Regions from separate parts of the Homo sapiens genome. Here regions 2, 3, 4 and 5 are each linked to region 1. The links come from fine-mapping of genetic effects on gene expression. A gene starts in region 1. Each other region holds a variant in brackets. All regions are shown on one strand. Distances are from middle to middle.

Region 1 (5,000 bases):
ATAATTGTTCTTTTTTTGATCAGTTACAAATGAACTCTTGATGAACAAAAGAATATGCAATGCAATGTGGAAAACCAAACAGCTATTTTAAAGTCCCACATTGAAATACTGTATAATGTCAGCTCAACTCTCACTCATTCTGGGAGGGGGGAAGAAAACAGGAAATAAGGCAGCTTTCAAAAATGTCTAAACTCTGCTCCTCTCTGCAGGATCTGAGTGGTTTTTTGACGCTGTGGCAGGGCATAATCGTGGGGAAGAAATAGGTCTGACATCAGTTTATGACGGTACAGAGCCAGAGAAAGAAGCAACCCAGGTCCAATCATTCAGCAGAATCATCTCTCAAGGTGCCCTGGGGCCTCATGCAGAGGGTTAACAAGGACAGAAAGTCTCTAGACCTGGGTCTGTTCATCCAACTTCCATATATCTGATGGCCATGGTCCAGGGTACACCCAAAAATACAATCTACCACATTCACTGTACCTCCTTTCAATGCTCAAAGGGGCAAGTCAAGCAACGTGCTATACTGTTACATTAATACAAAACTGTATTTAGGTATGGGAATTACTAAATCCAAAGGTAAGTCATCCAAATATAAGTCATGCATCCATCCAAAGAAGATTCAAAGGAAACGCAATCAAAAAAGAAAATATGCAGAAAATAGCAATAAATATCATTATTCTAAGATTTGTTATTGTAACATCCCTGAAGAAGCAATGCCATTCTATATTTTACTACAAAGTGGTTAATGTTTAGTCATTCAATAAAAATGCAACTCCATTCTGTCATCAGATCTCAAATCAGCATCACACACTTTCTTTTATTACAACAACTACAATGTGTCAAGTGCTCTAAACACAAAGTATCTTCCCATGTATCACCCACACCTTTTAGTTATGATCCTTAACAGATCCTGTGGATCCCTGTGGAGTAAATTCGCCATGTGATAACCCCCCACTAGCAGAGAACGAAAGACTCACAAAGGAACCTGAAACTTAAACCAAACTGAACCGCTGTGTACTAGATCTGAAGGCTCTGCCTCATCCACTGTATCGTGCTGCCTCCCCAAGGTGAGCTTTTCTAACCTGCATACTAGCCAGCTTTTCAAGCTTGCTACTGAGATAAAAAAAAAGGGGGCGGGGGGAAATGTGCTGGAAACAGACAAACAAACAAACAAAGAAAAACAAACTTGGTTTTTCTAGGCTTGAATCGGCAATGGGGGGAAAAAAAGTACCCTAGGAACAACCTTCTTGAGCCCATTAAAACATACAGAGATGACTGGCTTTTTATGACTGAGTGGCTTTTATTTGTGGCTGTGATCTCAGGGGAAGCCAATTTGCTGTGTCCTATTCCTTGACTTATACTGGACCCCAACTCCTGGCTAAGGGAACTTTGAGTCACCAAGGGAATCTGAAAATATACTAAGGGATAAATCAACAGTAATTAAATAGTTCAGTAGCGAAAAGCCCACTGAGGCATATAGAAAAAAGCAATGTAACAGCATTTCACTAGTTGACTTAGAAAAATTAGGCCTGTTATCCAAACTGCTACAACTTGCCTTATCAAAATTCAACCAGGAAACAGAGGAAACCTGAAGTCAGTCCGAAACATACGAATGCGTCAACTTTGTTTTTTTTTTTCAGCACATCATTACACATCATCCATTTGGTAAATGGCAGAGGGAGGGGAGGAGAGCCCTCCTCACCAAAGGTTCCAAGGGCAGCAGGGAGGATTAAGGCTCGGGCGCCCCAAACACAACACAACCTAGAAAGTGACGTGTCGAGGGGAATCACAAATAAAGTGCCACCAGCGGCGTTTGCGGCCAGGAAGAAAAAAGTACGCTAAAATTTAATTATAAGTTTAAGCAACTCTCTACGACATGGAACGTGCGTTTGCTTTGAGCTCCACGGAATCGTTTCCAAGCCAAAGCAAACCATCCTGGCGGTCAGAGGCCGAGATAACGGGAAGGCGGCCAGTCGTACCAATCAGCAGCGCTCAAGTCTCGTTAGCGCAGACCTGCTGCCCGCGGCCAGGCCGGGCAGCTGTTGATCCCCGGGCCATTCTTTTAAAGCCCAGGCAGAGCGCGGGTGGGAAGCGTGCGAGGAGAGCTGAGCCAGGGAGTTGCGGGGAGGAGAAGGTAAGAATGTCCCAGAGAAAAAGTCGGAGAGGGCTGCAAACTGGCTGGTCCGGCTGGCGGGGCTCGGCGCGGCGGAAGCGGGAGGAGAGGGGAAGGAAGGGGAGGGGAGGGGAGGGGAGGGGGCCAGCGCCTCAAAGTTCCGCGTCCCGGCGGCGCCGGCGCTAGGGCTGCTCACCTAACAGGAGCGTGGTCCAGGTCCGGCCGCGCCCCGCGCGCCGCAGGCCCAGCGCCCAGCGCAGCCGGGCGGCCAGGCGCCCCCCAAGGCCGCCCCCGGCGGGCGGCGCGCCGGGCTCGGCGCGGGGCCCCTTCCTGCCCGCGGCGCCCTTGCGCCCCGGGGACAGGGGCGCGCGCTCGGGCCCCGGCTCCCCGGCGCCGACGTCCGACGCCCCCCTCAGCGGCGACTGTGAGGCGCGGGGTGGCTGGGGCGGCTTGGGAGCCGCCTCCCGGTGCTTGTTCCGCGCCTGCAGGACCATCTTGGCATAGTCGCGCCCGCTCGCTGCGCGCGCCCGGACGGCGGCCAGAGAACGGCGGGCTGGCTGGGCGGCTGGGCGCAGCTCACTCTCCAGCGGGCGGGCGGGCGGAGGGTGGAGGGCGGGCTCGTCCCTCCCCGCGGGCCGGGAGGCGGGGAGATCGTGGAGGCCGGGCGGCTGCTGCCTGGCTGGCAGTACCGCCGGGAGGCGGCGCCGGACTTGCTAGCCCGCCGCCGTTGCCGCCGCTCCGGTTGTCACGGCGACCGCGGAACGCCGGGGGGCGGGGGCGGGGACACCCTGCGAGCGGCCGCGGCCCCGCCCCCGCCGCCCCTCTGCGCCGGACGCGCGCTCCAGGCCGGCCAGCGCGCACGCGCGGACTTCCGGCGCAGGCGGGGCCCGACCCCTCTGGCGCCCGGCTACCCACACCTCTTCGGCGCCCGCGCGGGGCTCGGCCGGTGCGAGGACGCGGGGGCGGACGGCCTTCCGGAGGCGGCCGCCCTTCCATTGTGGGAGTGATGGGGCCGAAGGAAGAGCCCTCTCGGGATCGGGGCGCTGATTCAAGTTTCGGAGCCTGTTAAGGCTGCGCTTGGAGCCCGCGCAGGCGAGACGCGGCGGGGCAGGGAGAAGGCGCCCGGAGCGGCCACTTAGGGGCGCTGTGCGTGCGCCCTGGGCGCCTGGTCGGCCCCACCGATGTGAAGCGCGCGGGTGGCAATCAAGTCACCGTCTCCGTTTACTCCCCGCAGTGTGGTCGCGCAACTTGGAGCGCAGCCCCTCACTCACCGACAAGAAGAACGGGTGCGACCCGATTTAAGATAGTAACAGAGTATTAAAATAGCAGCCTGGAATCTCATGGGGAGCTGATAAGGGACGAGGCACAAGTGTAAACTGAAGACCAGGGTAGGAGCCAGGCTGAAGGTGATAGGATGGATTGGCTGGAGCAGGAAAGATCATCAATAAGTACATTCAGTTTGTTACACTTGCTGTAACCTTGTTGCTTAATAGGAAGCAGGAAAACTTGGCGTTGATAAGATAGGAGATTTTAGTCGAAAATATGTTTTCTTTTACATAGCAGAATGCACGAGTAAATTAAACCCGGGAAAATTTAGAAACCCAGGTAGATCCCAATTCTCCCTCCACCCCTGCATTCTTTGCACACAGTCTTACAACAGCATGGATTACAACTGGGAGGTTCCTTTCCTGGCCGTGCCCAGTGGCTTGTTCCAAAAAGTTGTCTTTAAGTCCCAATGTTGTAAATCAAGGCCCATCGTTCTGCTTATCTCTATTGTAATTCCAGGGACTTCACGTGGCTTTCTCGCTCTTTGTTTCTTTGCCCAGTGATTTCTTTACTAATACCAGCATTCGTTCATTGTTAGCCTTTTTAAGAGACAGTGGATTATTTTGTAAAGGGAGGGTGTTTGCCATGCTAATTAATACTCCCTCATACCCTGTCTAGTTTATGAATTTGGATTTTCCAATGTCTTTATTGGAGCAAAGAACAACTATTTTTATACACTGGTTTAAAAAATAATGGTTGAAAGTAGGATGCAGAAGGCTTGGATTCTGAAACATTGTGTCAGCTGAACTCAATGCTACCTCTGGGATTAATGTTGAATGTATTCAGTTAAAAGAAAGCTAATTCAATGCCTATTAAAGATAATACGAATAACTGGCCGGGCACCGTGGCTCACGCCTGTAATCCCAACACTCTGGGAGGCCGAGGCGGGCAGATCACGAGGCCAAGAGTTCAAGACCAGCCTGGCCAAGATGGTGAACCTCTGTTTCTAATAAAAATACAAAAATTAGCCAGGCGTGGTAGCAGGCGCCTGTAGTCCCAGCTACTTGGGAGGCTGAGGCAGAAGAATCGCCTGAACCCGGGAGGCGGAGGTTGCAGTGAGCTGAGATACGCCACTGCACTCCAGCCTGGGCGACAGAGCGAGACTCCATCTCAAAAAAATAAATAAATAAAAATAATACAAATGATGGATTTTTTTTAATGATTAGAAAGACGCATGGAAAAAGAGGTTCAACATTTGAATTATTAGATTGCTGTGTGTCTACTTTATGTGATAGGCCCTGAATTCAGGAACTGCCTCCCTTAAGCTGGTACCGTTTGTACCAGGAAAACACTTGTTGAATGAGTGAGTGAATGAATGCAGTTCCACAAGTGCTTGTCAGTTCCCCTTCTCGGCTTGGCAACCATGCGGAGAGGGGCAGTGTGAGGTATTAGTTTTTTGGTTTTTTTGTTTTGTTTGTTTTTTTCTTAAACACGGTCAATTTAGATCCAGTTTGCAGCCACTACATTGACCCATACCAGCCTTGACCAAGGTATTATACCTCTTTGAGTCTGGATTTCTTCATTCTTAAAATGGAGGCAACAAAAACATCTAGTTCACAGG
Region 2 (5,000 bases), 36 kb before region 1:
GTCAAGCTAGGAATCAGCAGGCTGTGGGGATGGAAGCTTCCAATGTGAAAAATAGAAACTAATACAAATTGAAGGGGGACCTAGAGGTAACAAAGACAATGCAACAGGCAGAGAAATTTTCAAACTCAAGATTCTTTAAGTTGGAAATCTAACAGAAATGACAATAAAATGTAAAAATAAAATAAGGGAGAAAAACCCTGAGAAAATTCGACTTCAAGAAGTCCAATATCCAATCACTAACTTTCAAGAAAACAGGAAAAAAGAAATGGAGAAGAGAATGTCATTAGGGAAATAATACTAAAAAAAGTTTTCCTCCAAAGTGAAGAAAGTAAGTGCCCAGATAGAGCGCACAAAGTATGCGATGAGAAGGATGAAATAATATCTACCACATCATGACCTTTTACGGGACTAAAGAGAGAAAGATGAACCCAAAAGGTGCCAGAGGAAAACAACTAGCCACACACAAAAGGAACTAATGGTAGAATAGCACCAGACTTTTGAAAAGCTACACTCCATCTTAGAATACAGTCGAACAAAGCCTTTAAAAGTCTGAGGAAAAATAAAAATCAACAACCAGGCAAACCAGTAATTGAGTACAAAAATAAAAAAGGAAATGTTCAAACATGTCAGACAAATGTATTTTAAAATTATCTCTGTGACTCTCTTGGAAATTACCTGAGGATATGATCCTCAAAAGGATGAAACAGACCAGAAAGAGACCAACCTGGGGTCCAAAACACAATGAATCCAATGCAAGAGAGGAAAGGGGAATTCTCAGGATGGTGGTAAACAAAACTCCAAGGGAATCGCTAAACGGAAGCCCAGGGAAGGACGGGTCTAGGATGGAACCAGAGACAGAGGCTCCAGGAGGGAGGCCCCAGGGGATAGGAGTGGGAGAATTGAAATAATGGATTTTATACATTTGACAAAGTACAAAATAAGTGTTTACAGTTCAGCTGTAGATCTGGAGAGGAATTAATCAGCATACAGAACACCAAGGAAAACAAAATATTAGCAATAATTAACCACAGGAAAAATTTTAAGTTACCAAATAAACAATTATTTATACCACTTAATTCAGCAGTAAGCAATATTTTTACAGTCATAATAATGTAACTGCGGACTATGGTTTTACGTATCAGAATTGCTGAGTTTCCAAAGATCTGAAAGTGGCTTTCCCTAGACAAAGGGATACACAGGGTGGGGAAGACAGATGGGGCAAGGGACCACTGACGTACTTGATTATAAAAAGTTGAATAATGCCAAAAGATATGCATGTATATACAAAGCAGTGAAAATTCAGTTTAAAAACATACTAATAACTAACATACCCATTGTAGAGCACATTAATAGAAAGAAAGTTGTTCAATTAACTTACATGGAGACCTCTTGATCTTTGCCAAAAAATACTTCTAAGGAACAAATCATAAAAATGTTCCAGATAACATTAAAATAGCTGTTCGTATTCACCACCAAAAGAAATAATACAGTATATTTTAACCTTGGCTTGAAAACCATTAAAGAAAAACCTTCCAAAAAAAAGAAAAACTTTCCATACTGAAATTACCAACTACAAACTACCAGATCATGCGAAGGTATGGAGTTACAGTCATCTTACCTGGAGAATGAGGAGTCGGGGAAATGTGTAATCACAAAAGCAGACATTTAAGAATCCGCCCCCCAACATGCAGTATGTTACCTTTCCCTCCAATGTGTCGTTAGTTCAATAAATGAGTCTAAGTAAAATTAACTGAGGAAACTATTAGAATAATTATAAAATTACATGTATGACAGCTAAAAATGGAGCACAATAGGATCCTGAAAAATGGCAATATTAGAAAGAGTAAACTTCCACCTATCAAACCAAAACAATGCATACAGAAATATCAGCTGAAGAACAGCAAAATCCTGGGACCTCAGAATCCTTCGGAAATGAATTATTACAGAACAGTAATATTCTGGAACATCAGAACAGAAAAGAGAACGGAAAGTCTAGATCCTTCTTAGTGTCATGTATCTTTAAAACATTTTAAGTAAAACTTTTTATGAAATATAAATACCACTTACTTTGGCAATGAAATAAACACTTTTTTCTTCATTATGCAGGATCTTTAAACAAAAATTAACTAAAGCTGCAGACAATTTAATTGCTGTGGAAAGAACACTTAAAATGTATTCTCAGAGACAGTAGAGCACACGTTTTGGAGCCACTGTTGGTACTCAAATCCCTACTCTGCCAGTGACTAGCTCTGTGACCTCGGAAAAGTTATTTAATATCCTTGTGTCTCAGTTTCCTCATCTATAAAGCGGTTTACCTATCTCATGGGAAAACCATATGGATTAAATGAGTTTCTGATAGTAAAGAGTTTAGAGCCTCGCACATAAGCGTCATACATGAACTGAACTTCTGCAATCAAAAACAGTCTTCAGTGAAGATTGGAATCTGCAGAAGGAAAGCTTCAGAATGAGTCCATTGGAAAAATACTTCCTAAATTGGTAAACGCTAGTAAAGCTTATGTGATAGATAATATGTTTTTATTGTGCCTTTCATATATGGCAACCATAAGCTAAGTTTTTCTTTCAATATTTTATTATTAATTAATTTATTCAATCAAAAAATATTTTGGAAGGCAAGCATTCTTCTGGGTCACTTGCAAACACTACCTTATTCCATTCTCACATAGAAGACAGAGTCTCTTAAACTCATTTAGGTGTTCTTCCCTCTACTCAATCACTTCTTTAAAAATCATCTATAATCTTCCATTTCAGTTAACCTAATAAAACACTGCACCTCCCTTTTACAACCCTAAAAGACCTCTGTTACTTTATATTTTCTTTTACAT[T/C]TAAAGGCAAACCAAAGAACTGGCAGTCACTCTAAGTTCTGCTCACATCATTTATTCAAACTATATAAAAACTCAACCTTAACAGATTCCACCCACAATTTAGAGCTTCTATACAGCTTTTTTTGGTCTTCTAGCCTTAATCATGACAGCCTAAGTTTGCCAGACATCTAAGGAAGGCACCTAACATGGAAGGTAGAGACCAAAGGATGTTTAAAAAAACAAGCTAGGCCGGGCACAGTGGCTCATACCTGTAATCCCAGCACTTTGGGAGGCTGAGGCGGGCGGATCACCAGGTCAAGAGATTGAGACAATCCTGGCCAACATGGTAAAAACCCCTCTCAACTAAAAAATACAAAAATTGGCTGGGTGTGGTGGTGCGTGCCTGTAGTCCCAGCTACTTGGAAAGCTGAAGCAAGAAAAAATTGCTTGAACCCAGGAGGCCAAGGTTGCAGTGAGTCAAGATCGTGCCATTGCACTCCAGCCTGGTAACAGAGCGAGACTCCAGCTCAAAAAAAAAAAAAAAAACAAAACAAAAAACAACAACAAAAAAAACCCACACACACAAGCTAGAAGATGCCAAGGTTATTCTGGGAGGGTAAAAACATCATTAATACCCTTAGAGAGAATATTTATTGAATCCAAGAAACAAAAATAAAATACTATTTTTTAAAAAGGAATGTTTATAGAACAAACAAAACTTCTTGGAAATTAAAAGCATGATAATGAAAAATAAAAACTCAGTAGAAGGTTGGAAAAAATAAGGCTGATAAAATGTTCTAGAATGTAGAACAAAGCCAAAGAGCTTAAAAATGGGGGGAAAAAAAAGAAAATTAGAGGACTGGAAACTACAAACATCCAAACAAAAGTTCTGAATCAGAAAACAAAGGGAATAAAATAAGTAAAGAAATAATTCAAGAAAATTCTCAGAAATCAAAGGCATGATTGAAACAACCCATCAAGTGTCCAAGAGAACACATGAAAGCAGATCTACACTGAGACATATTGCTCTGAAATTTCAGAACCATAGAGACAAAGAAGATATTCTACAATCTTCCAGAGAGAGGAAGGGGAAGCAAAGGTCACATACAAAGGTTTAGAAATTTGAATAACTTAGGAACATCTGAATAGCATCATCTGAAGCAACCAACAATGTTCTCTTTTCTTCTTTTGAGACGGAGTCTTGCTCTGTCGCCCAGGCTGGAGTGCAGTGGCACAATCTTGGCTCACTGCAAGCTCTGCCTCCTGGGTTCACGCCATTCTCCTGCCTCAGCTTACTGAGTAGCTGGGACTACAGGTGCCCGCCACCACGCTTGGCTAATTTTTTTGTATTTTTTAGTAGAGACGGGGTTTCACTGTGTTAGTCAAGATGGTCTCGATCTCCTGACCTTGTGATCCACCCACCTCGGCCTCCCAAAATGCTGGGATTACAGGCGTGAGCCACCGTGCCCGGCCAGCAACCAACAATGTTTTCAAGTCTAGAGTTCAACACTCGGCCAAACAGTGAACCAAATACGAAAGCAAATAAACACATTTTGCAAAGTTTCATAAAATGTTTACTTCCCAGCTATCTACTCTCAAGACCTACCTACTAGAAGATGAGGTCTACCAAAGAGGGAAAATAAACCAAGAAAGAGGAACAAACAGGATAAGGGCACAGGGGATCCAACAGGGGAGAGCAGTCAAGGAAATCCCAATGGGATGCCAAAAGGACAGATGTACACAAACCATGGAAGGTAGCCAGTCCAGAACCAAGTACTGACTCATGCCCAAAATCTCCACATTTTATTTGTGTGAGCCTGGATGAGCCTGGACCAGATTCTTGTCTGTATTTTATCTTGGCTCCACATACTTTACTGCTGGCATCAGTTAAAGACACTTATATCACTCACAGAAGTTGTTCTGCTTTGATATGCTCCAGAGAGCCAGGGTAAACAGTGGTGAATTTAGAAAGAGGGAACAGCTCTTCCCCTCATGATATTTCTGCTGGATATTCAGTACCTGGCCACTACATTTCTGCCAGATGTCCCTACCGACTGAGTCCTACATTTATCCCAGGCTCATGACGTTGCCTACTGATGTCCTGAGGAATCAGGCTCCTGGTTGAAAACCTATATGGGATTTCTCAGGCCTGGCCATATGCAAGGCTTTGCCTGACAG
Region 3 (5,000 bases), 26 kb before region 1:
ATATGCATCTCCCATGTAGACAAAAAACTGTCTACCAGGCACCACAGGGTTAGGTCAGGTCAGGGCCAAAACCACCAAAAACCCCTCAACCAAAACCAGGAACTTTTATTCTCTTCAGTAGATGTTGTGCCTTCTGCCTTTGAAAAAACAGTTATAACAAGCATTACAAGAAAATGTGAATGCTTTAACGGATGTTTACAAATTCTTCTTTCAATTAAAAAAGTAGCCAGGCATGGTGGCACACACTTGTAGTTCCAGCTACTTGGGAGGCTGAGGCAGGAGGACTGCTTGAAGCCAGTGGTTTGAGGCTATAGTGCTCTGTGACCACATCTGTGAATAGTCACTAGACTCCAGCCTGGGTAACAATATAGCAAGACCCCATATTTTTTTAAAAAAAGGGTAGCATAAGTGCAGATTAGCAGCTTAGCAGTAATGCCATGTTTCATATTTTAACTTCTCTTATGTAAAATCTAATCTCCCAAATGTAATAAAGCTACCCATAGACAGATGGGCAGTACTCAGCAAAATGAATAGACACCACCAAGTTTCTCTCCCTCTGGCTCATTACGATGCAAGCACACAGGCCCACTTTCCCTCAAGTCAGCCTCCTTTTCTCATTACCATATTCTTTTGGTTTAACTTATTTCCCTGCATCTTGTTTCAAAAACAAAATCTTTCACAATCATCTTTTAATCATGCATTTTTATTTTAGTCTCCCCAATTAAACAAAAGAATTTTCTTAGACCTAAGTCAGAAATAGTAACATCAAAGTGTCTTAAATCTATATGCAAATATATTTTACATTGATCTTCTAACAGCTTCCTCTTTTGACAAATGCTTATCAAGTAACTGCTAGATACTCAAACGGTGGGCTAGAAACTCAACACATCTTTGAGGTACTAAACTGAAAATGCCACACTTCCAAAGGAAAGGAGATAATGCGATAATAGCAAATTCAAACTCATTATCCCAAATTGAAAATCATATACAATTCTCATAATTCTGTACTACAAAGAATCAATAAGCAGCAAGGAAGAAAATTCTAAAGATAATCTCAAGGTAAAATACTTCAAACATATATACAGAATAATAAATTGGCAAAAAAGAAGTAAACATAAAAAGCCTTAAAAAATTAGTCTTTTAGTTTTAGGAATGCTGCTCAACTGTAAAGTAAATCAGGTCAGATACTAAATATTGTACAGAAGACACTTCTAAATATTACATAGAAGATACTTCTACTTTAACATTAATAAAGAGCTATTAATATCATTTGATAATGAGTGGTCTTTTCCCTTATATTTTATGTAAACAATATATACTGGATGGAGCTGAAACCATCTACAGCCATTGACATTGGAAGAAGAACCACAGACAGCCATCTAGAAAGACCCAAATGCTCTAAGGTAAAAGCTGCTCCCTCATGTTACCTTAAGCAGTAGTCTACAGACTTTTTTTACACCAAAACTACAGTAAGAAGTAAGACTTCACACATCTCAGCACACACACGTATACACGTACATACAGCAAATGGAATATACTGTTCCATAACAATATATTAGATATTCCATAACAATATATGGAATATATATTGCTTATGTTCAAATGCCTATGAATATTCAAAATTTATGCCAGGCACTGTGGCTCATGCCTGTAATCCCAGCACTTTGGAAGCTGAGATGGGCAGATCACTCAAGCCCAGGAAGTTGAGACTAGTCTGGGCAACATAGCAAACCCTGTCTCTACAAAAAATACAAAAAAATTAGCTGAGTTTGGTGGCGTGCACCTATAGTCCCAGCTACTCAGGAGGCTGAAGTGGGAGGATCGCTTGAACCCAGGAGGCGGAGGTTGCAGTGAGCAGAGATCACACTACTGCACTCCAGCCTGGGTGACAGAGTGAGACCCTGTCTCAAAAAAAAAAGTAATTA[A/G]ATTTATCAAGTATTCCCAATTCTATTTACATCTCTAAAACTATCTTAAGTGTGATGGGCCATGGCAGTGGTGAAATCATGCAAATAATGAATTTTATGATAATAAGATATTTTAGGATATTTTCATAAAACTGAACTATAAATTAATCAATGATTAACTATTAACTAATCAACTATTTTATTTTAGTATATCTTATAAACACATACTAAAATATTCTTACCTTAAATATGTGCCATATATGAAGAATAATGCCATCATTAGTCCATTTAAAATAAAAATTACAGCAACATAAAAGCAAGCAGGATCTCCCAATCCTTTAAAAATAAACAAAACATATGTTCTAATCACATTAACCCAAATTACCTTACGTGTCTAGCAATTTATATTAAATTGTGTTCATTTTGAAAATGGTTGCCAGATATATTAAATAGCTGCCTTGGTTCCCACATGAAAACACAACACTACTGCAGAACATAGATGAGACCAGGGTAATTAGCAATGATGGTTTTAAAACAGGGCTGCAAATTCACTGATACGCCTCCTCTGGAGGTATGGGGTCTATAGCCCCCATTTTTGAGTTTCATTGGGCTTGTGACTCTTTCAACAGAGTATGGCAGAAGCAACACTATGTGACTTCTGAGGCTAGGTCATAAGAGGTCATACAGTGTCCAGCTTGGAGCCTTCAGCTGCCATAGGAAAAGCCTTACTACTACTCTGAGGTACTTTGCTTTCAAAAAGCCCAAGTCACCCCGAAAGGCCACATGTAGGTGTCCCAGCTGAGAGTTCCAGCTGAGCTCAGCCTCACAGTCCTCCATGCCCAGGAGCCAAAATGTGAGCAATGTAGCCTCTCAGTTAATTCCAGCCTTCCCAGACATTTGAGTCTTAGTAGCAGAGGTCCCTGAAATCATGGACATAAACCAGCCCCGCTAAAGCCTGCCCAAATTCTGGACTTGCAGAATCTATATATGCATAATAAAATGGGTGTTGTTTATACCACTAAGTTTACAGTGTAAGTTTATTATGCTAGATAAGTTTATTATGTTACAACAGATAACTGGACAATATTACAGAAAGAAACTTACCTTCACAGCTTTCAATAGGACTGAGTCCTTCTCCTCTGGTAACCGTCCAACATATCTTGGTTTGAATACCAATCAAGTCCATTATTTTGGTATAAATCCGGTACCAACTGGCCAAAATTACCTATTTTAAAAAATACAGAGGCATCTTAAGAAAATATACTAAACAATTTTCATTACTAGAATACTTTTGAGATACTTTGACAATTACCATATTTTCCCTTTCCATACCATCCACTTGGCTCCCTTTAAATGTAGTAAAACAAGGCTCAGAATCTCCTAGGCAGATTCTTCACTGGTCAGTTTTCAATTGTTCATCCATGGGTAAGGACAAAATATGGGCCAAAAAAAAGTGCTAAATTTATGTTTTTCAAAAGCTCTACAACTCTACTAAGAGACACAAAAGAAGATTTGCACAAGTAAAAGATACTGGGTCTACTGGAATAGACCGAATTATTTAAGATATGAATTCTCCCTCAAATTAATTCATAAACATAAAATAATTCCAGTCAAAATTCCAAGTGTCTAAAATGTATCTAGAAAACTAACAAGAAAATTAAAGGGAATGTTTTAACAGATATTAAGTCTTACCACTTTTAATAATTAAAATAGTGTGATACTGGCACAAGAATGGCTAGACAGATCAATAACCATGGTACAAGCGGTGGCAAGCCACCCCAGATTCCCTCTTCCGGGCTGAGGCACTCATTCCTCCAGCTGGTTAGAAGACTGGTGCCTGAAAGCTTGAAGCTGTGTCCCTCCATGGGAACTGCCCATGGCTGAAGAAAGTAAATTCACTCAAGGTGACATCCCCTACCCACGGGCAATCTGCATCTGATGACCGACTAGTCAATAGGGAAAGACATCAAGGCCAGGGGCCCTTCTCACAAGGTAGGACAACTCTGCAAAGCCATCCCAGATCCAGAGCTGCCCAGGGACTGGATGAGGCCTTCACAGTGACTGTATCAAAGCTCTCCTCTTCCTCCTACCTCATTCTGCTTCATTCATCCCCCTTCAGGTGTTGGCCCTAAGGACACTCCCTCGACTACTTCCTGCATGCAAATCTCCATCTCAAAGTCCACTTTCCAGGACCTCAACCTAAGGCAATACTGAGCACAAAATCCAGAAACACGTGCAAGCATGTATGTATAATAATTTTGCATATAAAGAAAAAAGCTTACTTCAAATCAGTGGAGAGAGGATGGACACCTCATCAGTGTTAGGTTACACACAATACATTTTCAAAAAACAATTCAAGGTTAGATTCCTACCCCACACTATGCATCAAAACCAATTCCAGATAAATTAAAAATGTAAATTAAAAAAAATTATGATTATAAAAATGAAGTTTTTTACATGTATGTATAAAAGACAAAAAAGATTCAAAGATATATTTCTGTATAGAAAAAAATACATAGACATCATACACAAAGCTAAAGGGCAAACAACTGGGGAAAATGTTTCATTATATAGCATTATATTAATATCCAGTATATAATAAATGAACTTATAAAATTTTAACAGAAATATAGATGAAAGGCATGAATTGGCAATTATTTTTAAAAGTAAAAATGCATTATGTATATATGTATGTGTGTTATATATACATATATAGAGAACACTGATATATATATATAAAATCAATGAATGAAATACATCACGTGACCAATTTGTCTATCCAATTAACAAAGATGCAGGTAAATAAGTAGTTTCAAAAACACTGCTGGTGGATAGTTCAATATCTATCTGGAAAGCCTTCTGACAAAATCATTAAAATATATATTCTATTGAACTAGAGTTCCACATCAACAAATTTATAGTTTTGCAAGGAGGATAAAGGAGAGGCCAAATGTCATCTCCACTTGCTGGATTGGGCTCACCTTCCCTCCACTCCCACTCAAGAAAGTGCACTCAATTAAATGAGGAAAGGGAAGAAAACATTTAACAAATGACATGTAAAAGTAACAGCGCTCCCTTGGTATAATCCCTGTAAGC
Region 4 (5,000 bases), 93 kb before region 1:
AAGTTATTATTTGTACAATTAAGCTCTGCTTTCTATCAGCACCTGCAGTAATCACTCATGAACTCAGTCTGTACTAAATCGGTATTAGTTGTACACCAACAACTATTTTAAATCTTTAGAAAGATAGAAAATGATCAGCTTTGGCCCTTACCCTTTAAGAAAGATAAGTACAAAACCATGAAGAGCTTTAACTATAATCACTTAAAAGACTTTGTAATTCATTATTTTAGGGCCACTCAATAATAAAGGCTAAAATTATCATAGTAGCTATACTCCAACATAACATGTTACCTGTCTTGAGCAGATCAGTGATGCCATAACACACATGTGTGGTGTCAAGAAGAGTTTTAGTCTCATAATTAAAATACCAAGGGCTGTATATGCTAACAATTGCAATGCATGGTAAACCAGCTGAAAGAAAGAAGAAAATGTTTTTTACTCCTACTGTTTGTGAAGTTTAAGAATACTAAACTGGCAATATGCAGAAAGGGGTACGTTCTCCTTAGTAACAAAAAATACTACTAAGGTTTCTGAAACTTCGAAAACAATTCTTAAAATTCACTTTCAAACTGTTCCATTTTAGTGGAAGGCTAAAATTATAAAGTCATTAAGGCAAGTGTTTCTGTGATTCTCAGAGTCAAACCTGTGGTTAATAAAGCCCACATTTTTTAATCAACCTTGATGCTACCATCAGACCAAGAAAAGACAGTGGTAAAAGAAATGACTGCTGCCTCAAGATCTGAGGGCTCCACCTTGGAACTGCCCTCAAAACCAGACTGGACAACTAGGAGATGGGAGCAGTAACCAATCACATCTCTGAGGCCTCAAGCAAGGTGAGCAGAGAGGAAAGTGATTTCCAATCATGCAATAGACACCTCATACATATGTCTAAATGGGCTCCAGAAATCAACTGCCATTAGTGTAAAGATGATCAGAGCAGAACATATGAGTTTCCTAGTTAATTTTAACAAATGAATAGTCAGTGAATCTGCATATAGCATTCTCATAAAAACACATAACAGGCTATTTTCAAGATGATTGCTGACAATTGCCAACAAAGTTAGAAACTGGAACTAGAAAGGAAAGTCCAAATGCATGCAACTTTAAGATAAGTAAAATTATAGTCATATTAAGTCTTTACCTCTCCATGATCAAACTGGTGTTTTCTGGAACAGAAAAAAATATATTGCCATCAATTCATTATTGAAGCACTTACGTCATATATTTGCATTTTCATCTTGCAAACAGGAGTTTTACAACTTCTATAACATTCTCTCAGGACACACACAGGCAAATCAAAATAACTAAAAGTCACATGCCAAAACTGGTGCTATACTATTTTAAGAAAATTTATGAAGAATGACAATGTTGTATTATATCCTATTTGACTACATGGGTATTTATTAGGACAACAAAGGCACACGGTGGTGTCCCAGCTCCCTCACTGGTGATACCCCAGCAAAGCATGGAATGAAAAAAACCTTTGAGATTTTCACTAGGCAACCAAGTAGAGATAACAAATACGTGGTTATATGTGTAAATCTGAGTTCAAGGGAGAAGTCTGGGTCAGAGACAGAAATGTGTGAGTTGACAACACACACCTTCTCTTTCTTAAGCACTGATATGTTCCCAAGACCTAGAGTAATACCTGACACTTAGAGCTCAACATTTTTAATGAATGAACAAGTGTATCAATAAACTGTTAATCCAGGTAGCATATAATCTAATTTGAGAATCTAGCCTCAAAAAGACTGATATATTAGCAAACTCAGGACACATAAGGGGCTAGTGAAGGAGATGAAACAGTTCTTTATTCTTCTTTCACACCAAGTAAAAACTATCAGTTACCATTTGTTGAGTACTTACAATGTTAATATGCTTAGTACATTCCATTAACTCTAATCCTACAACCATTTATTACCCCAATTTACAGCCAAGGAAAGGAATCACAGAGCTAGTAAGTGGCAGCCAGGACTATATTCTGACTGACTTCAGAGCCAATATACTTTTTACTACATCATGCTGTCTCTATCCCACTTTACTTCCTGGGTCTTTGAGTAAAGAGAATATTGGCATTCATGTCTTTGATAGTTAAAATTTATGTCCTACTCTTCTCCTTTTTACACTGGCTTTGGTAGCTATGCAAAATAAAATGTCAACATGCCACTCCTCTTCCAAAAAAGAGCTCTGATCCTATTTGAACTGACAACTCCATGAAGCTCAATGGTTTCCTATAATTACTTCTATAGGTGAGTTATTACTCTTGAAGGGACAGCTTTGTTTCTGTGAGAAGTTCCAC[C/T]TTCCTCTTCCAGAGTTGCATACTACAGCTGAAACTTTGTAGCTTCTTCCTGAGCTCTTCAAAAATAATTTCACCTCAAATGAAAAATTTCGGCATTGTAAACCAGAACGTTTTTCTTTCCCCCTTAGCCCTCAACTCAAATGTTACAGGTATAAACATATACCTGTATATGTTACAGTAAATTGTTTCTAAATGAGAACAAGGATTCTCTCAGGAGTATGTGCAATAATTTATCATTATGTTGGCAGAGACTTGGAGGTGAGGGAATAATACAAGGGTGTGTATATTCAAATTATAAAATAAAATATAGGGCCAGGCGCAGTGGCTCATGCCTATAATCCCAGCACTTTGGGAGGCTAAGGCAGGCAGATCACGAGTTCATGAGTTCAAGACCAGCCTGGCCAATATGGTGAAACCCCGTCTCTACTAAAAATACAAAAATTAGCTGGGCGTGGTGGTGGTCGCCTGTAGTCTTAGCTATTCAGGAGGCTGAGGCAGACGAATCGCCTGAACCCGGGAGGCGGAGGTTGCAGTGAGCCGAGATCGTGCCACTGCACTCCTCCAGCCTGGGTGACAGAGTGAGGCTCTGTCTCAAAAAAAAAAAAAAAAAAAGAAAAATTAAAAAAAAGAAAATATAGATACATACACATTCGACAATCCTTCTCCCCCCAAAATCCCACAAAAGAATAAAAGTAGAGTTAAAACTACCTTCACTCCATCCTCTAATCCCACTCTTAATAATTACAGGATTTATCTTTCCGGATCATTTCTATGCACAAACACATAAAAATCTCTAAATTTTAAAGAGAAGTATAATTATCCTATACACACACACACTGGCAATTTTAAAAATTCAATAATGTATACTGGACCTATTTCCAGAAAGATAGCCTAACATTCCACTCTATGTATCATAGTAGATATTTTGGATGTTTCCATTTCTCACATAACACACAATACTACAAAAGGCATCTCTCCCCATCATCTCTGTATTTCTGTGAGCATCTCTAGAGGGTACACTTGCACTGGTGGAACCTGCAGGGCTAAAGGACAGGCCCACTATATGTTTTACTGTGTATTGCCAAACTTCCCTCCCATCTACTACCTCCCACTCTTGCAAGCATTGGATATACTATTAATTTTTAGAAATATAAGAAGTGAAAAGGTCTTCACTTTAACCTGAATGGCTTTACCATAGGATCAAGACTACCTTTTCATGTTCATTAGTCATATGTAAATACTCATTCAACTACTATCCTTTACTATCTTGCAGGCACTGTATATAAACTGTTGAACAAAAATGATCGCTCCCTTCAGGAGATACGGGTCACACATCAACATTTAAGTACAAAGGGTGACAAATGGTAAGAGAGTAAGACAAAGGGTGTGATGGTGGAAAATACCAAGCATGCTATAGGCCTCTCTAACTCTCAGGTTATAAACAAACCCTCTTGGTTAATTTTGGGTTTTTTTTTTCCTATACATAATTCTCTGGTTCATCTGAAATTTATTTTCTGTAAAAAGTGAGGTATGAATCCAGTTTTATATTTCCCTGCTCATTTCCAAAAAGGCAGTCCACTGGTCCTAAAACCACTCACGTAATAATTTACTTTCCCTGCTGAAATGAAGTACAAAACTGTGTCCTTTGAGTGTAGATTATGTGCAGGGCTACTGTCAGACTGTACTGGATAACATCTGAAGGATGAATAAGTGATGTGCTGTGTTCTGCACAGATAGGAAATAAGAAGAAATGCCAGGAAGGGAAATGACCACAATAAAAACATCAATTATCAAATATTAGGTACACAACATGTAAGTATACAATTAATACACTGTAAATATCTATTTAATAAATGAACAGAGGAGGTAATAAAATTCTTAATAGCATATTTACCTTACATGTGTCTGTTGTTTAGCTAAGACACCCCACATATCACTAATAATCTGTAAATAGATTTTGAAACACTTTAGAAAAGCTGTGTTGGGAAAAATGATATTTTAAATAAAGTATCTTCTAAACTGTAAAATAACTTTTAATGAAAATATAAGTATAGAGATAACTCAGAAAATAATAATCACAACAACATAATCTTATATTTGTATAGTATCTGATCAAAGCTAATATTCAACAACCCTGTTGGGTAGATTATATCATCCTCGTTTTGTAAATGAGCAACAGGTTCATATGGATTAAATGATTGCCCTGTAGGTAGACAACTACTAAGAAGCACTGCAGTCTTGAAACCAGATCTTCTGGCTTCAAATTCACATTCAGCGCTGCTTCCACCATGCCAACGTTGTTGGCAACACCTCTTCTTAACAGTGCACTCAGAAAACTGGAGAGCTGGCTCAGAGGTTGATAATCACAGCTGGAAGCATTCAAAACACAGTCACTGTGCTTTCATATTCAGCAATAATGAGGAGGTCATCTAATCTAAAATCGTATCTCCAGTACAAATATTCTCTACAACACTGATGACAGGCTGTAATCCAGCCCTTAGAATCCACCAGCTGCTGCTTGAATCTATAACACTTTCCTTATCAGTCGAGATCAGTTCTGGTCAAAAGTCATACCTCCTGGAATTGGCCATGATTCTAAGGAGCCAGATTGTGTGTAACCTTATTTTCAAGGCACAGGCTTTTACCATATTTCAAAGTAATTATCCGCTTTCCATCTACATCTTTTCTTCTTTAAACGAAA
Region 5 (5,000 bases), 130 kb before region 1:
CCAGCCCATGGGGAGCTCTGGGAGGTTTAAAGCAGAGAAGAACCTTGCCTTGTCTAAATTCTGTAAGTCTCAACACTCTGCTTCCTTCATAGCACTTATGGAAGTTTGCAATTATTTCGTGGACTTGTTTATTTTTTTCCATATCTTCCACTAAATGTCAAGCTATGAGCAGAAATAAATTATGTCTGTTTTGTTCACATTTACTTCTCAACTACCCTGTAAGTCCCTGGAACATAGTATGAATTCCATAAAAAGTAATTGAATACATGAGTAAATGAAGGATGCATGCAGGAATAGATGAGTAGAATCAACACAAAATTAACCATGGGTTTCATTCAACACATACCTCACCACTCCTGCATGTATATAAGATTCTTCTGAAAGCGGGGAGGAGCCAAGATGCCCGAATAGGAACAGCTCTGGTCTACAGCTCCCAGCCTGAGCGACGCAGAAGACGGGTGATTTCTGCATTTCCATCTGAGGTACCGGGTTCATCTCACTAGGGAGTGCCAGACAGTGGGCGCAGGTCAGTGGGTGCGCGCACCGTGCGCGAGCCTAAGCAGGGCGAGGCATCGCCTCACTCAGGAAGCGCAAGGGGTCAGGGAGTTCCCTTTCCTAATCAAAGAAACGGGTGAAGGACGGCACCTGGAGAATCGGGTCACTCCCACCCGAATACTGCGCTTTTCCGACGGGCTTACAAAACGGCGTACCACCAGATTATATCCCGCACCTGGCTCGGAGGGTCCTACCCCACGGAGTCTCGCTGATTGCTAGCACAGCAGTCTGAGATCAAACTGCAAGGCGGCAGCGAGGCTGGGGGAGGGGCACCCAACATTGCACAGGCTTGCTCAGGTGAACAAAGCAGCCGGGAAGCTCGAACTGGGTGGAGCCCACCACAGCTCAAGGAGGCCTGCTTGCCTCTGTAGTCTCCACCTCTGGGGGCAGGGCACAGACAAACAAAAAGACAGCAGTAACCTCTGCAGACTTAAATGTCCCTGTCTGACGGCTTTGAAGAGAGCAGTGGTTCTCCCAGTACGCAGCTGGAGATCTGAGAACCGGCAGACTGCCTCCTCAAGTGGGTACCTGACCCCTGACCCCCAAGCAGCCTAACTGGGAGGCACCCTCCAGCAGGGGCACACTGACACCTCACACGGCAGGGTATTCCAACAGACCTGCAGCTGAGGGTCCTGTCTGTTAGAAGGAAAACTAACAAACAGAAAGGACATCCACACCAAAAATCCATCTGTACATCACCATCATCAAAGATCAAAAGTAGATAAAACCACAAAGATGGGGAAAAAACAGAACAGAAAAACTGGAAACTCTAAAAAGCAGAGCGCCTCTCCTCCTCCAAAGGAACGCAGCTCCTCACCAGCAACGGAACAAAGCTGGACGGAGAACGACTTTGACGAGCTGAGAGAAGAAGGCTTCAGACAATCAAATTACTCTGAGCTACGGGAGGACATTCAAACCAAAGGCAAAGAAGTTGAAAACTTTGAAAAAAATTTAGAAGAATGTATAACTAGAATAACCAATACAGAGAAGTGCTTAAAGGAGCTGATGGAGCTGAAAACCAAGGCTCGAGAACTACATGAAAAATGCAGAAGCCTCAGGAGCCGATGCGATCAACTGGAAGAAAGGGTATCAGCAATGGAAGATGAAATGAATGAAATGAAGCGAGAAGAAAACTTTAGAGAAAAAAGAATAAAAAGAAACGAGCAAAGCCTCCAAGAAATATGGGACTATGTGAAAAGACCAAATCTACGTCTGATTGGTGTACCTGAAAGTGATGGGGAGAATGGAACCAAGTTGGAAAACACTCTGCAGGATATTATCCAGGAGAACTTCCCCAATCTAGCAAGGCAGGCCAACGTTCAGATTCAGGAAATACAGAGAACGCCACAAAGATACTCCTCGAGAAGAGCAACTCCAAGACACATAATTGTCAGATTCACCAAAGTTGAAATGAAGGAAAAAATGTTAAGGGCAGCCAGAGAGAAAGGTCGGGTTACCCTCAAAGGGAAGCCCATCAGACTAACAGCGGATCTCTCGGCAGAAACCCTACAAGCCAGAAGAGAGTGGGGGCCAATATTCAACATTCTTAAAGAAAAGAATTTTCAACCCAGAATTTCATATCCAGCCAAACTAAGCTTCATAAGTGAAGGAGAAATAAAATCCTTTAGAGACAAGCAAATGCTGAGAGATTTTGTCACCACCAGGCCTGCCCTAAAAGAGCTCCTGAAGGAAGTGCTAAACATGGAAAGGAACAACTGGTACCAGCCACTGCAAAATCATGCCAAAATGTAACGACCATCAAGACTAGGAAGAAACTGCATCAACTAACGAGCAAAATAACCAGCTAACATCATAATGACAGGATCAAATTCACACATAACACTATTAACTTTAAATGTAAATGGACTAAATGCTCCAATTAAAAGACACAGACTGGCAAATTAGATAAAGAGTCAAGACCCATCAGTGTGCTGTATTCAGGAAACCCATCTCACGTGCAGAGACACATATAGGCTCAAAACAAAAGGATGGAGGAAGATCTACCAAGCAAA[C/T]GGAAAACAAAAAAAGGCAGGGGTTGCAATCCTAGTCTCTGATAAAACAGACTTTAAACCAACAAAGATTAAAAGAGACAAAGAAGGCCATTACATAATGGTAAAGGGATCAATTCAACAAGAAGAGCTAACTATCCTAAATATATATGCACCCAATACAGGAGCACCCAGATTCATAAAGCAAGTCCTGAGTGACCTACAAAGAGACTTAGACTCCCACACATTAATAATGGGAGACTTTAACACCCCACTGTCAACATTAGACAGATCAACAAGACAGAAAGTCAAAAAGGATACCCAGGAATTGAACTCAGCTCTGCACCAAGTGGACCTAATAGGCATCTACAGAACTCTCCACCCCAAATCAACAGAATATACATTTTCTTCAGCACCACACCACACCTATTCCAAAATTGACCACATACTTGGAAGTAAAGCTCTCCTCAGCAAATGTAAAAGAACAGAAATTATAACAAACTATCTCTCAGACCACAGTGCAATCAAACTAGAACTCAGGATTAAGAATCTCACTCAAAACCGCTCAACTACATGGAAACTGAACAACCTGCTCCTGAATGACTACTGGGTACATAATGAAATGAAGGCAGAAACAAAGATGTTCTTTGAAACCAAGAGAACAAAGACACAACATACCAGAATCTCTGGGACGCATTCAAAGCAGTGTGTAGAGGGAAATTTATAGCACTAAATGCCCACAAGAGAAAGCAGGAAAGATCCAAAATTGACACCCTAACATCACAATTAAAAGAACTAGAAAAGAAAGAGCAAACACATTCAAAAGCTAGCAGAGGCAAGAAATAACTAAAATCAGAGCAGAACTAAAGGAGATAGAGACACAAAAAACCCTTCAAAAAATTAATGAATCCAGGAGCTGGTTTTTCAAAAGGATCAACAAAATTGATAGACCACTAGCAAGACTAATGAAGAAAAAAAGAGAGAAGAATCAAATAGATGCAATAAAAAATGATAAAGGGGATATCACCACCGATCCCACAGAAATACAAACTACCATCAGAGAATACTACAAACACCTCTACACAAACAAACTAGAAAATCTAGAAGAAATGGATAAATTCCTTGACACATACACTCTCCCAAGACTAAACCAGGAAGAAGTTGAATCTCTGAATAGACCAATAACAGGCTCTGAAATTGTGGCAATAATCAATAGCTTACCAACCAAAAAGAATCCAGGACCAGATGGATTCACAGCCGAATTCTACCAGAGGTACAAGGAGGAACTGGTACCATTCCTTCTGAAACTATTCCAATCAACAGAAAAAGAGGGAATCCTCCCTAACTCATTTTATGAGGCCAGCATCATTCTGATACCAAAGCCGGGCAGAGACACAACCAAAAAAGAGAATTTTAGACCAATATCCTTGATGAACATTGATGCAAAAATCCTCAATACAATACTGGCAAACCGAATCCAGCAGCACATCAAAAAGCTTATCCACCATGATCAAGTGGGCTTCATCCCTGGGATGCAAGGCTGGGTCAATATACACAAATCAATAAATATAATCCAGCATATAAACAGAGCCAAAGACAAAAACCACATGATTATCTCAATAGATGCAGAAAAGGCCTTTGACAAAATTCAACAACCCTTCATGCTAAAAACTCTCAATAAATTAGGTATTGATGGGACATATTTCAAAATAATAAGAGCTATCAATGACAAACCCACAGCCAATATCATACTGAATGGGCAAAAACTGGAAGCATTCCCTTTGAAAACTGGCACAAGACAGGGATGCCCTCTCTCACCACTCCTATTCAACATAGTGTTGGAAGTTCTGGCCAGGGCAATTAGGCAGGAGAAGGAAATAAAGAGTATTCAATTAGGAAAAGAGGAAGTCAAATTGTCCCTGTTTGCAGATGACATGACTGTATATCTAGAAAACCCCATTGTCTCAGCCCAAAATCTCCTTAAGCTGATAAGCAACTTCAGCAAAGTCTCAGGATACAAAATCAATGTGCAAAAATCACAAGCATTCCTAGACAAACAGAGAGCCAAATCATGAGTGAACTCCCATTCACGATTGCTTCAAAGAGAATAAAATACCTAGGAATCCAACTTACAAGGGATGTGAAGGACCTCTTCAAGAAGAACTACAAACCACTGCTCAAGGAAATAAAAGAGGATACAAAGAAATGGAAGAACATTCCATGCTCATGGGTAGGAAGAATCAATATCATGAAAATGGCCATACTGCCCAAGGTAATTTACAGATTCAATGCCATCCCCATCAAGCTACCAATGCCTTTCTTCACAGAATTGGAAAAAACTACTTTAAAGTTCATATGGAACCAAAAAAGAGCCCGCATCGCCAAGTCAATCCTAAGCCAAAAGAACAAAGCTGGAGGCATCACACTACCTGACTTCAAACTATACTACAAGGCTAC

Alleles and levels. Positions count from the first base shown, and alleles are read on the strand shown. Sizes are in standard deviations (SD) of each study's normalised expression. Not every link is listed here.
In carriers of allele C in region 2, the expression in subcutaneous fat of the gene that starts at base 2,698 in region 1 tends to be lower than with T alone (small effect, 0.29 SD a copy in GTEx).
In carriers of allele C in region 5, the expression in visceral fat of the gene that starts at base 2,698 in region 1 tends to be higher than with T alone (small effect, 0.21 SD a copy in GTEx).

What was found. PIP is the estimated chance that this variant, and not a neighbour inherited with it, causes the effect.
Region 2: its variant is the best candidate, but not a certain one, in a credible set for the expression of DPY19L1 in subcutaneous fat (GTEx, PIP 0.53).
Region 3: its variant is the best candidate, but not a certain one, in a credible set for the expression of DPY19L1 in whole blood (TOPMed, PIP 0.65).
Region 4: its variant is the best candidate, but not a certain one, in a credible set for the expression of DPY19L1 in whole blood (TOPMed, PIP 0.83).
Region 5: its variant is the best candidate, but not a certain one, in a credible set for the expression of DPY19L1 in visceral fat (GTEx, PIP 0.72).

What each region holds. Positions count from the first base shown.
Region 1 is chr7:35,034,788-35,039,787 of GRCh38, forward strand. It overlaps DPY19L1 (dpy-19 like C-mannosyltransferase 1), which reads right to left and starts at 2,698. Exons shown (of 22, transcript NM_001366673.1): 1 at 2,310-2,698. The coding sequence starts at 2,607. It overlaps LOC105375228 (a long non-coding RNA gene), which reads left to right and starts at 1,999. Exons shown (of 3, transcript XR_001745162.3): 1 at 1,999-2,134. RefSeq lists silencers at 2,388-2,557, 2,588-3,257 and an enhancer at 3,308-3,537.
Region 2 is chr7:34,998,775-35,003,774 of GRCh38, forward strand. The region is part of intron 6 of DPY19L1 (dpy-19 like C-mannosyltransferase 1); the gene reads right to left. Among named protein-coding and RNA genes, the nearest start is that of DPY19L1, 36 kb to the right of the region's middle. RefSeq lists a silencer at 4,984-5,000. The variant T/C (reference allele first, on the strand shown) is at 2,844.
Region 3 is chr7:35,008,322-35,013,321 of GRCh38, forward strand. It overlaps DPY19L1 (dpy-19 like C-mannosyltransferase 1), which reads right to left. Exons shown (of 22, transcript NM_001366673.1): 5 at 3,009-3,129; 6 at 2,147-2,240. Among named protein-coding and RNA genes, the nearest start is that of DPY19L1, 27 kb to the right of the region's middle. The variant A/G (reference allele first, on the strand shown) is at 1,926.
Region 4 is chr7:34,941,474-34,946,473 of GRCh38, forward strand. DPY19L1 (dpy-19 like C-mannosyltransferase 1) reads right to left here. Exons shown (of 22, transcript NM_001366673.1): 16 at 4,194-4,243; 17 at 1,142-1,166; 18 at 292-411. It overlaps LOC102724723 (a long non-coding RNA gene), which reads left to right and starts at 753. Exons shown (of 3, transcript XR_001745166.2): 1 at 753-833; 2 at 3,573-3,663. The variant C/T (reference allele first, on the strand shown) is at 2,300.
Region 5 is chr7:34,905,855-34,910,854 of GRCh38, forward strand. No RefSeq gene overlaps it. Among named protein-coding and RNA genes, the nearest start is that of MIR548N, 32 kb to the right of the region's middle. The variant C/T (reference allele first, on the strand shown) is at 2,568.